Linked DNA regions of Homo sapiens: all the other regions are linked to region 1. Evidence: fine-mapped expression QTL. A gene starts in region 1. Each other region holds a variant in brackets. All regions are shown on one strand. Distances are from middle to middle.

Region 1 (2,841 bases):
GCCCATTCTCTCTCCGCGTGACAGGATGGGTGGCCCTACAGGAACCAGAGCCCATAGGTGATGGGGGCTAGATGAGAGGGCCACAGAACCACCCAGGCTTGATGTCCACACAGCAGAACTTCCTCACTCTGGTTCTCTCCCAGAACTCACACACACACACACACACACACACACACACACAAAGTCCTAAATCCTCTGAATCTCATAGTGTCAAGGCCTGCAGGAAAATGTAAGAAACTGCCCTGGTCTGCCTTGGCAATGCAGGATGCAGCATGCTAACCACAGAGCATTTCTCATCACCTCTCTAGAGACAACTCCATTCCCTTACTCCAAGCCTATAAAGTTCTGGGTAATTGTTGGAAGGTAAAGCCCACCCAGCCCAGGCAAATCTCTAACTCACCACTTTGTGGCAGCATGAGGTAATGCCAGCGAGAGGGAGGAACTTTCAGAGTCAGATGCAACCCACTTCCAGGTTCCCAGCTCATCTGCCTCTTACATTTAAAAGTTTGTAAGTTTTCTCCTGAGCAGAGGAAGAAGGAAGGAGAAGCCTTCACAGGACAGTCTGGCCTCTAACTGCTCTGCCAAAGAAATGTAAGAGTCAGGCTAAAAGCTGTCATCCTCAGCATCTTCCGGAAGGGAGGGAGGAGAGGAGCGGCTGCTCTGGGTGGAGGCAGCAGGTTGCTTGAGCAAGCAGGTACCACTCTAAGCCTTCTCGGGACAGAGAGGGGGAAGGTGGGCTTCTCTGAGCGCCTGTAGGTCCGCTGTGCCAACCCACTGTTTTGTTTGCTTTTTCTGGCATGAATGGCTGTCAGACAGTGTCCCCTGGCTTGGTCTGCAGCACCCCCTGCCCACCCTGGCCCTCCTGCAGCAAGGTGCAGCCAGGAAGCCTCTGTGATCACTCCGCAAAGGGGAGAGAGGAGGCAAGGAGAGGCAGGGGAGGCCCCCCACCTGCGCCCCACCCCGTCTCTTCTTCCTCCCTGAGAAACCGAATGAAAGCCGATCACCTCCCGCCGGCCCTGCCTGCAGGCCCAGCTGGGCTGCGTCCTGTCAGCCCTCGTCCGGGATGGCCCGGCCGCTGCGACCCGAGGGCGAGCCCCGAGGGCGGCCGGGCTGGAGAAAGGCCCCAGGGCTACAGGCCGGGCCCAGGAAGCGGCTGCGCCTCGAGGCCCGGCCTGGGCCGCCCAGAAGCTCAAGAGGCCGCTAGGTCGCGGCGGAGGGGCGCGGGGGGGCGGCCGGGCCGGCAGAGGAAGGGGTGCGGCGGGCGCGGGGGTGGCCCCCAGATGCGGCCCCGGGCGCCCCGCCGCTCACCTGCTCCAGGCCGCCTGCAGGGCAGGCGCGGGGCGAGCGGCGACCAGCTGCTCTCTCGGCCGCCCCTTTATTCCGGCTCCATCCGCGGCGGCGCGGCCTACGCGCGCTGCCAATCCCCGGCCTCGCGTAGCGGCTGCGGCCGGACCGGGGGCGGGGGACGGGCTAGCGGCGGCCGGAACGGAGGAAGCGACGCGCGCTGCCGGAGTAGCGGGGCCGGGGCGAGGAGCGCCGGGAGGGCGGGCGGACGGACCGATGGCCTTGCGGAGACGGGCGGACGGGCGGGCGGCGCGGGGGCCAGGGAGGCGGGGCCGGGGGAGGAGCGGCATCCCGGGCGGCGGCGGCCAATGCGGGAGGAGCGGGCGGCGCGGAGCGAGGCCGCCCCCTGCCGGGGACCCCGTGGCCGGGCCAGGTCGGACAAGCCGGGTGCTCCGGGCGGTTTTCGAGTCGCCAGGCCTGGGCGCCTCGACTAACCGAGGAAGGGCGCTCTGCTTCCGGCCACCCCGCTCGGGCTTAGGGGAGGGGGCTCCGGGTGACCGCCCTCGGCCCGGCTCTGCGCAGGAGAGGAGGGGCCTCCTAGAGGCTCTGGTCTGCCACAATTGATCCGCCCCTAACTGCTCAGCTTGGCTTTTAGGGGCTTGGACTTTGGGCTGGTTTGAGGAGGGGGCTCCAGGACCTCTGATCCTGGCCGGGCTCGGGGCAGGCAGGGGTCTCCGCTGGGTCTAGTGCGCTGACCCGGGACTGTCGTGTCTGGTATGTCTGGTCCCGGGTGGCTGCAGACAGCAGCGGGCAGAAAGGTGAGGGCCCTGAGCGATATATGAAATGGGTACACGAAGGCTGGGGAGGTCCCAGCGGGGTGCCGGGAGGCTGCAGGTGACCAGATCCGCGTGCGCAGCCGGCAGACAGCTTGGAGTCGGTGGGCTGAATCTTCACCACTGTCCTGCCGGGTTCCGCCCCTCCCGGCTCCGCCCCGAGGCGGTGCCAGCCCAGGCCCCGCCCCTGGGAGGGCGCTTCCGGCACAGCGGAACTCCGGGTGCCGGTTGAGGTTGCTGGTGGACCTGCTCTGGTGGTCTTGGATGAGGCCCCATGAGCGCGGCGCCCCTGGTGGGCTACAGCAGCAGCGGCTCCGAGGATGAGTCCGAGGACGGGATGCGGACCAGGCCGGGGGATGGGAGCCACCGTCGGTGAGGAGTGAGGAAGTCTCTCCGGAGGGCGCGCGCATTCACCCTAGAGCCAGACGGGACCCGAATGTCTGGGGGTGGAGTGGGGAGGGAGGATGCGGGGCGGCTCTGGGAAGGAAAAGGGGACGCAGGAAGAAAGGAGGATCCAGAAGATATACCCCTCCCCCCCACCCCAGACAAAGCTCCAGAGTGGCCCCACCTGGCTAGGGCCAAGTTGGGAGGCCAGACCTGGGTTCGGGTCCAGCCTCGCGCTGGCCCACTCTATCGCCTGGCACACATCCCTGTACCATCCTAGGTCCGTTTCCTGATTTGAATACAATTGCGATAGTAATACTTGCTAAAGCGTAGGGAGAGC
Region 2 (2,841 bases), 30 kb after region 1:
GCATCCACACAGCCTCAGGCCTCCAGTAGGGTCACAGCTGGGACCTTCTCGGAGCAGCTTGGCAGCTGAGCCAAGGCCAGCCTCTCTCCACTTCCTCTCTCCCCTCCCAGGGTGGAAGCCACAGGACTTTCACGAGGCTGAGACATCAAGGAGCCTGGCATGTGCTAGGAACTGACAAACACCTGCAACCTGCCAGGCCCTAGCCCACCACTGAGCTGCCACGTCCTATCCCACATTCTCCCTTGGATGTCCAATCCCAGTCTGTAGCCATTCCGGGCCAGATCCCCACCTGGCTGAGGTGCTCACTGTTGTTCCTGCCCTGCAGGGCTGAGAGTCTCCAGGCTCACCGGGGGAGCTCTTATCTCACCTGCCTCCCCCTACCCCCTCCTCCCAGGCACAATTCAGGTCCTCAGCCTGCTCTGTGGAGGTGACTCAGGCTGCCAGAGTTCACAGGGGTGGTGCCACCACCACCAAAACCGATCCACCCGCCTTTCCTCAACAGGCCCACGAGTATCTTCCTAGCCCCTACCCAGCCACTGAGTAGATGAGGCAGCGGGGGTGGGGGCGTTGGGAGGGGGTCAGCGTGAATTACCATTTTGACCTTCAGGTGAGCCACAGTCTTGGGCTTCCTTAGCTTCAGTCTCTACTAGCACTTCCATGCTGGCTCCGGGGGGGCCCCACTGGTCCCCTCTTTCTTTTAAACAGAGCAAAACTACAGATGCCATCTGTGCCCACCAGCTAAGAAAAGGGAGTTAATAGCGGGGCCTTGTCATTGGGAATCTGCAGAAGCTGAATCTTCTCCCCCTCCCCTCTTGTCTCTGCTTTTTACTCTGTTTTCTTGCTAGTAGTAAATCACTCCTCTCCATGCTCTGTCAAGACCCAGAGAGAACTGGTCTGATTGGCACAGCCAGGGACCTAGATCTCATTGGGCCATGCCCTTCACACCCAGCCCTTGCCATGTTTCCGAGTTGGG[G/T]CTGCCCTTGGGTCCAGCCAGTCATCTGTCTCCTTGCAGAGAACAGCCCAGTGTAAGCTCCTTGTCTGAGCAGTGTATTGGCCTGACCTTCCCATTGTGACCTCTGAACATAAATACCTCCTTTGCCCCACCCCAAGGGATGTTGATACTTAAAAGATATCCATGAATGTGGAGAGGAGCAACATGGAAATACACGCTATCCCCACCCCCAAAAGAAGACTTTCCCCAAAAGCCCAGTGCCCACTGCTATCTCTTATGCCCATTCAGGATGGCTACACTGCAGGCGTGGAAAAGCCCCTCCCTGCCGAGCGGTTTGTTCTGCTGTCCCTCTGTGGCCCTTTTGTTGTTTGGTCCAGATGATCCCTTCCATCATCACCTCTGCCCTGCTGGGAGTTTGACCTCTGCCTCAGGCTAGCTGTGGTGGTCACTATGAGAACCACTACTTTCCAGATCAAATCAGAATGGGTATCCTCCATATCATCCCAAGGCTTAGGTGGCTCCCTGTCTTGGACACTCCAGCAGGAGCAATGCTTTGGTCCTGGAGATGTGTTTTCTGAGTCAGCAAAGACAGAGAGGGGTTGTGGACTCTGCCCTTATCTTTCTCCTTTACAAAGCGGGTCCTGGGAGAAGCCCACCATTGAGTGTGAGGACCGGGACCCTGAAGGCGGCTGAATGCTCCAGACCTGAGACACAGTAGGCACCATCTGGCTGGACAGCTCTGAGTGACGGCTCAGATAGGGCTGCTCCACAGTCAGACACAGGTTCCAGGGATTCCTGAGACCAGAGGCCATGGAGCTGGGCCTGGATCCCAGAGGCAAAGAGGGATGCCTCTTCCCTAATCCCATGGCCCTCGTGGGAATGGAAGAAAAAGTGGGAAGAGACCCAACTCAGCCTCCAGTATCAGGACAGGTGGATAAGCCCCTGGTACCAGCCATTAGCCAGCCCCTGGAGATGCCCCCCATCCTGCTGCCATCGGCCGATGGTGATGCAGGCCAAGGTCTAGATCACCTCTCCAGGGCACTGGCACTGGCACTGCCTTGTCCTTCCCCTAGGAGTGACTGTCACCCTGTAGGGGTGAGAGTCCAGCTCCACGTTCAGCGTTTCTGAGCATGGCACTTGATACATAGTGCACAACACGGTGGCCTACACCCTGTGTCCAGAGCCTCCCTGGCAAAATAGTGCAAAACAGTGACAGAAGCGAATGGCATTTACTGTTGGGCAAGTCACTGAATCTGTATGAACTTCAAGATCTCTATAAAAAGGGAATAGCAATGGTCTATCTGCTTGATGGAGTTACGGGGAGATTCATTGCATTTATGTGCAAAACACTAAACGCTATGCACAATGCCTGGCACAGGGGGCCTAAGGAGGCGCAGGTGTTATTTTTGAGCACCTTCAACATACTTGTGTCTGTTGTGGACACAGACTAGGGATGTTTTGTAAGCGTTTTCACATTTAATCCTTGTATTAACTCTTCAAGTGTAGATGCTGTCATTACTCAATCTACAAAAGAGGAAACTAATACTGTGAGTTGAGAGAAATGACCCCCGCATTCCATAGCCAGGGAGTGGCAGAGCTTGGATTTGAACCCAGCTCAGTCTGGCCTGGAGCCCAAGTTCCCAACCCCCATGCGGGGTTGAAGGCTACAGGTCAGAGCCTAGGGTGCCATCCTGTGGAAATTCCACCAGGCAGAATTCTGCTGGGCCCGATCCAGGTGGGAAAGAGGTTTCTGAGGTGGAGCCAGGGCTGCCTGAGCTGTGTGAGCCAAAAGCCCTCCCCCGGCCCACCCAGCCTTGCCCCCATCTGTCCAGCCACCCAAGCTCTGCCCTGTGGACAGCCCCGTCTAGGAGTCAGCACCTGCAGGGAGG
Region 3 (2,500 bases), 110 kb before region 1:
TGTTGTGCCACCCACACACTAAGCCTGCTCCTCCCCAGGGCCTCTGCACATGCTGTTCCCTCTTCCCAGAATGCTGTACCCAGCCATCAGTCCCCCAGCTCACTCCTTTGCTTTGTGCAGGTCTCGTTGAAATGCCACCTGCTCAGAGCAGCTTCCCCAACCAGCTTATCTCAGACAGCTCTCCGTCACTTCCCGCTCCTCCCGTGGCTTTGTGTTTCCTCGTAGCCAGACGCATCACATCATCGCTCATCTTTCCATTGCCGGTTCCCTGACTAGAATGTGAGTTTTGTTTGGTCCCTCCTGTGTCCCCAGAACTCAGCACTGTGTACTCGATACATCACTGTGCTGTAGGAATGGATGCTGGTGAGTTTCTTCCCTCTATTATGACAGCTCTCTGTGCAGTTTATTTATGGTGTCATTGTATAGAATGAAGGGGAAAATAAGAATGTGTGATACAAGACAAGGAGGAAAACCCAGATATGTGGATTAAAAAGGTTTTACCCAACTGAAAAATTATAGGGTGAATTTGATGGCTACAGAGGAACAATTGCTTATTTATCTGAGAGACAGGGTCTTGCTCTGTCACCCAGGCTGGAGTGCAGTGGCACGATCATAACTCACTGTAACCTTAAATATTTGGGCTGAAATGATCCTCCCGCCTCAGCCTCCTAAAGTGCTGGGATTACAATCATGCAGCATTGCGCCCGGCCTGAAGTGATCCTTATTAACATGCACTGAGCTCTCTTGTATGACAGGCACCCCACCGGAGACATTCCTGCACACTATTTAATTTTCACAGCAGCAGGCCAGGCACAGTGGCTCACACCTGTAATCCCAGCACTTTGGGAGGCCAAGGCGGGCAGATCGCCTGAGGTCAGAAGTCCCAGACCAGCCTGGTCAACATGGTGAAACCCCGTCTCTACTTAAAATACAAAAATTAGCCGGGTGTGGTGGCATGTGCCTGCAGTAGTCCCAGCTATTGGGGTGGCTGAGGCAGGAGAATCGAATTGTTTGAACCCAGGAGGCAGAGGTTACAGTGAGCCAGGATTGCGCCACTGCACTCCAGCCTTGGCGACAAAGCAAGACTCCATCTCAAAAAAACAAAAAAAATTTACAGCAGCAAAGTAGGGGTTATGACCTTTATTTTACATAGGAGACAACTGAGACCAGAAAAGTTAAACAACTTCCTCAAAGTCACACAGCCAGCACCTCACATGGAAGGGATCTGAGCCCCGCCAGCCTCCCAGACCTATTGTGGGGTTCCTGACACACTACGTTGCCTGTCGCTCAATTTGAAACCTGATCTTAAGGGTTTGAAAACAAAAACCGGCTTTTCTAAAAAGAATGACCTGTTCCCCAACAATGCAAAATACGGATGCACACGGTTATTCGTTGCACCACTGTTTGTAATTGCAAAATTGTGGAAATACCCTAAATGTCCATTTACAGGAATGTTCTGCCACTGTGGAAAGGAATGAGGAAGCTGACTCTGCACTGATAGACAATGATTTCC[G/A]GGTTTTGTCGTCATGTGGAAACAAAGCAAAGTACAAGAATCTACAGCATGCCATATTTTGTGTAAGAAAGAAGAAGAAATAAGAAAATGTTTGGGCTGGGTGTGGTGGCTCACACCTGTAATCCCAGAATTTTGGGAGGCAGAAGCGGGCAGATCACCTGAGGTGAGAAGTTCGAGACAAGCCTGGCCAACGTGGCAAAGCCCCATCTCTACTAAAAATACAAAAATTAGCTGGGAATGGTGGCAGATGCCTGTAATCCCAGCTACTCAGGAGGCTGAGGCAGGAGAATCACCTGAACCCGGGAGGTGGAGGTTGCAGTGAGCCAAGACCTAACCACTGCACTCCAGCCCAGGCTACAGAATGAGACTTCATCTCAAAAAAGAAAAAAAGAAAATGTCTGTGGACTTGTCCATTTTCGCAAAAGTAAGCAGAGGAAAGAAAAGGCAGAAATTGATGCAACGAGCCACGTAATAATGGGAGTTGCAGTCAGGGGGCAATGGGGACAGGGAGAGTTGGGACGCTTTTCTGAGTGCCCCATTTTGCAGAGTGTTGACCTTCAGGAACATGTTAATGTTCTACATACTGAAAACAAGAAAAAGTCAACAAAGATCAGGGTGGCAGGAGCCCTAAATGGAATGTAAACTGAAACAAGTGAACCTACCTGTATTTCAAATGAATAAAGTAACCACATTAAAGGGTAGTGGAGGAAGAGAACGACTCCAGATAACTTTGAACGTAACACTTCCATCATATATACTCGGGCTAAACACAAAAGAACTGCATCCAGTACTGAACTCTACCTAGAAGCCTTACTTTTTGTTTTTACAGTGACATGGGCTGGAAATTCTGAAATGAACTTCCCTGTATTGCTCAGTGTTGGAGAAGAGATTTACAAGTATGAAAAGGGAGAATATTAGAATGAATTCTAATATGTGGTGGCAGGGCACGGTGGCTCACACCTGTAATCCCAGCAACTCTGGGAAGCC

Evidence for each region. PIP is the estimated chance that this variant, and not a neighbour inherited with it, causes the effect.
Region 2: its variant is fine-mapped to the expression of ZNF319 in whole blood (INTERVAL, PIP 0.97).
Region 3: its variant is fine-mapped to the expression of ZNF319 in whole blood (TOPMed, PIP above 0.99).

The regions. Positions count from the first base shown.
Region 1 is chr16:57,999,093-58,001,933 of GRCh38, forward strand. ZNF319 (zinc finger protein 319) reads right to left here and starts at 1,580. Exons shown (of 2, transcript NM_020807.3): 1 at 401-1,580. USB1 (U6 snRNA biogenesis phosphodiesterase 1) reads left to right here and starts at 2,315. Exons shown (of 7, transcript NM_024598.4): 1 at 2,315-2,489. The coding sequence starts at 2,392. RefSeq lists enhancers at 664-933, 1,791-1,960, 2,133-2,427, 2,454-2,553 and silencers at 1,054-1,183, 1,234-1,833, 2,124-2,373.
Region 2 is chr16:58,028,636-58,031,476 of GRCh38, forward strand. All of the region lies in intron 1 of MMP15 (matrix metallopeptidase 15), which reads left to right. Among named protein-coding and RNA genes, the nearest start is that of MMP15, 4.3 kb to the left of the region's middle. The variant G/T (reference allele first, on the strand shown) is at 974.
Region 3 is chr16:57,892,712-57,895,211 of GRCh38, forward strand. All of the region lies in intron 31 of CNGB1 (cyclic nucleotide gated channel subunit beta 1), which reads right to left. Among named protein-coding and RNA genes, the nearest start is that of CNGB1, 77 kb to the right of the region's middle. The variant G/A (reference allele first, on the strand shown) is at 1,514.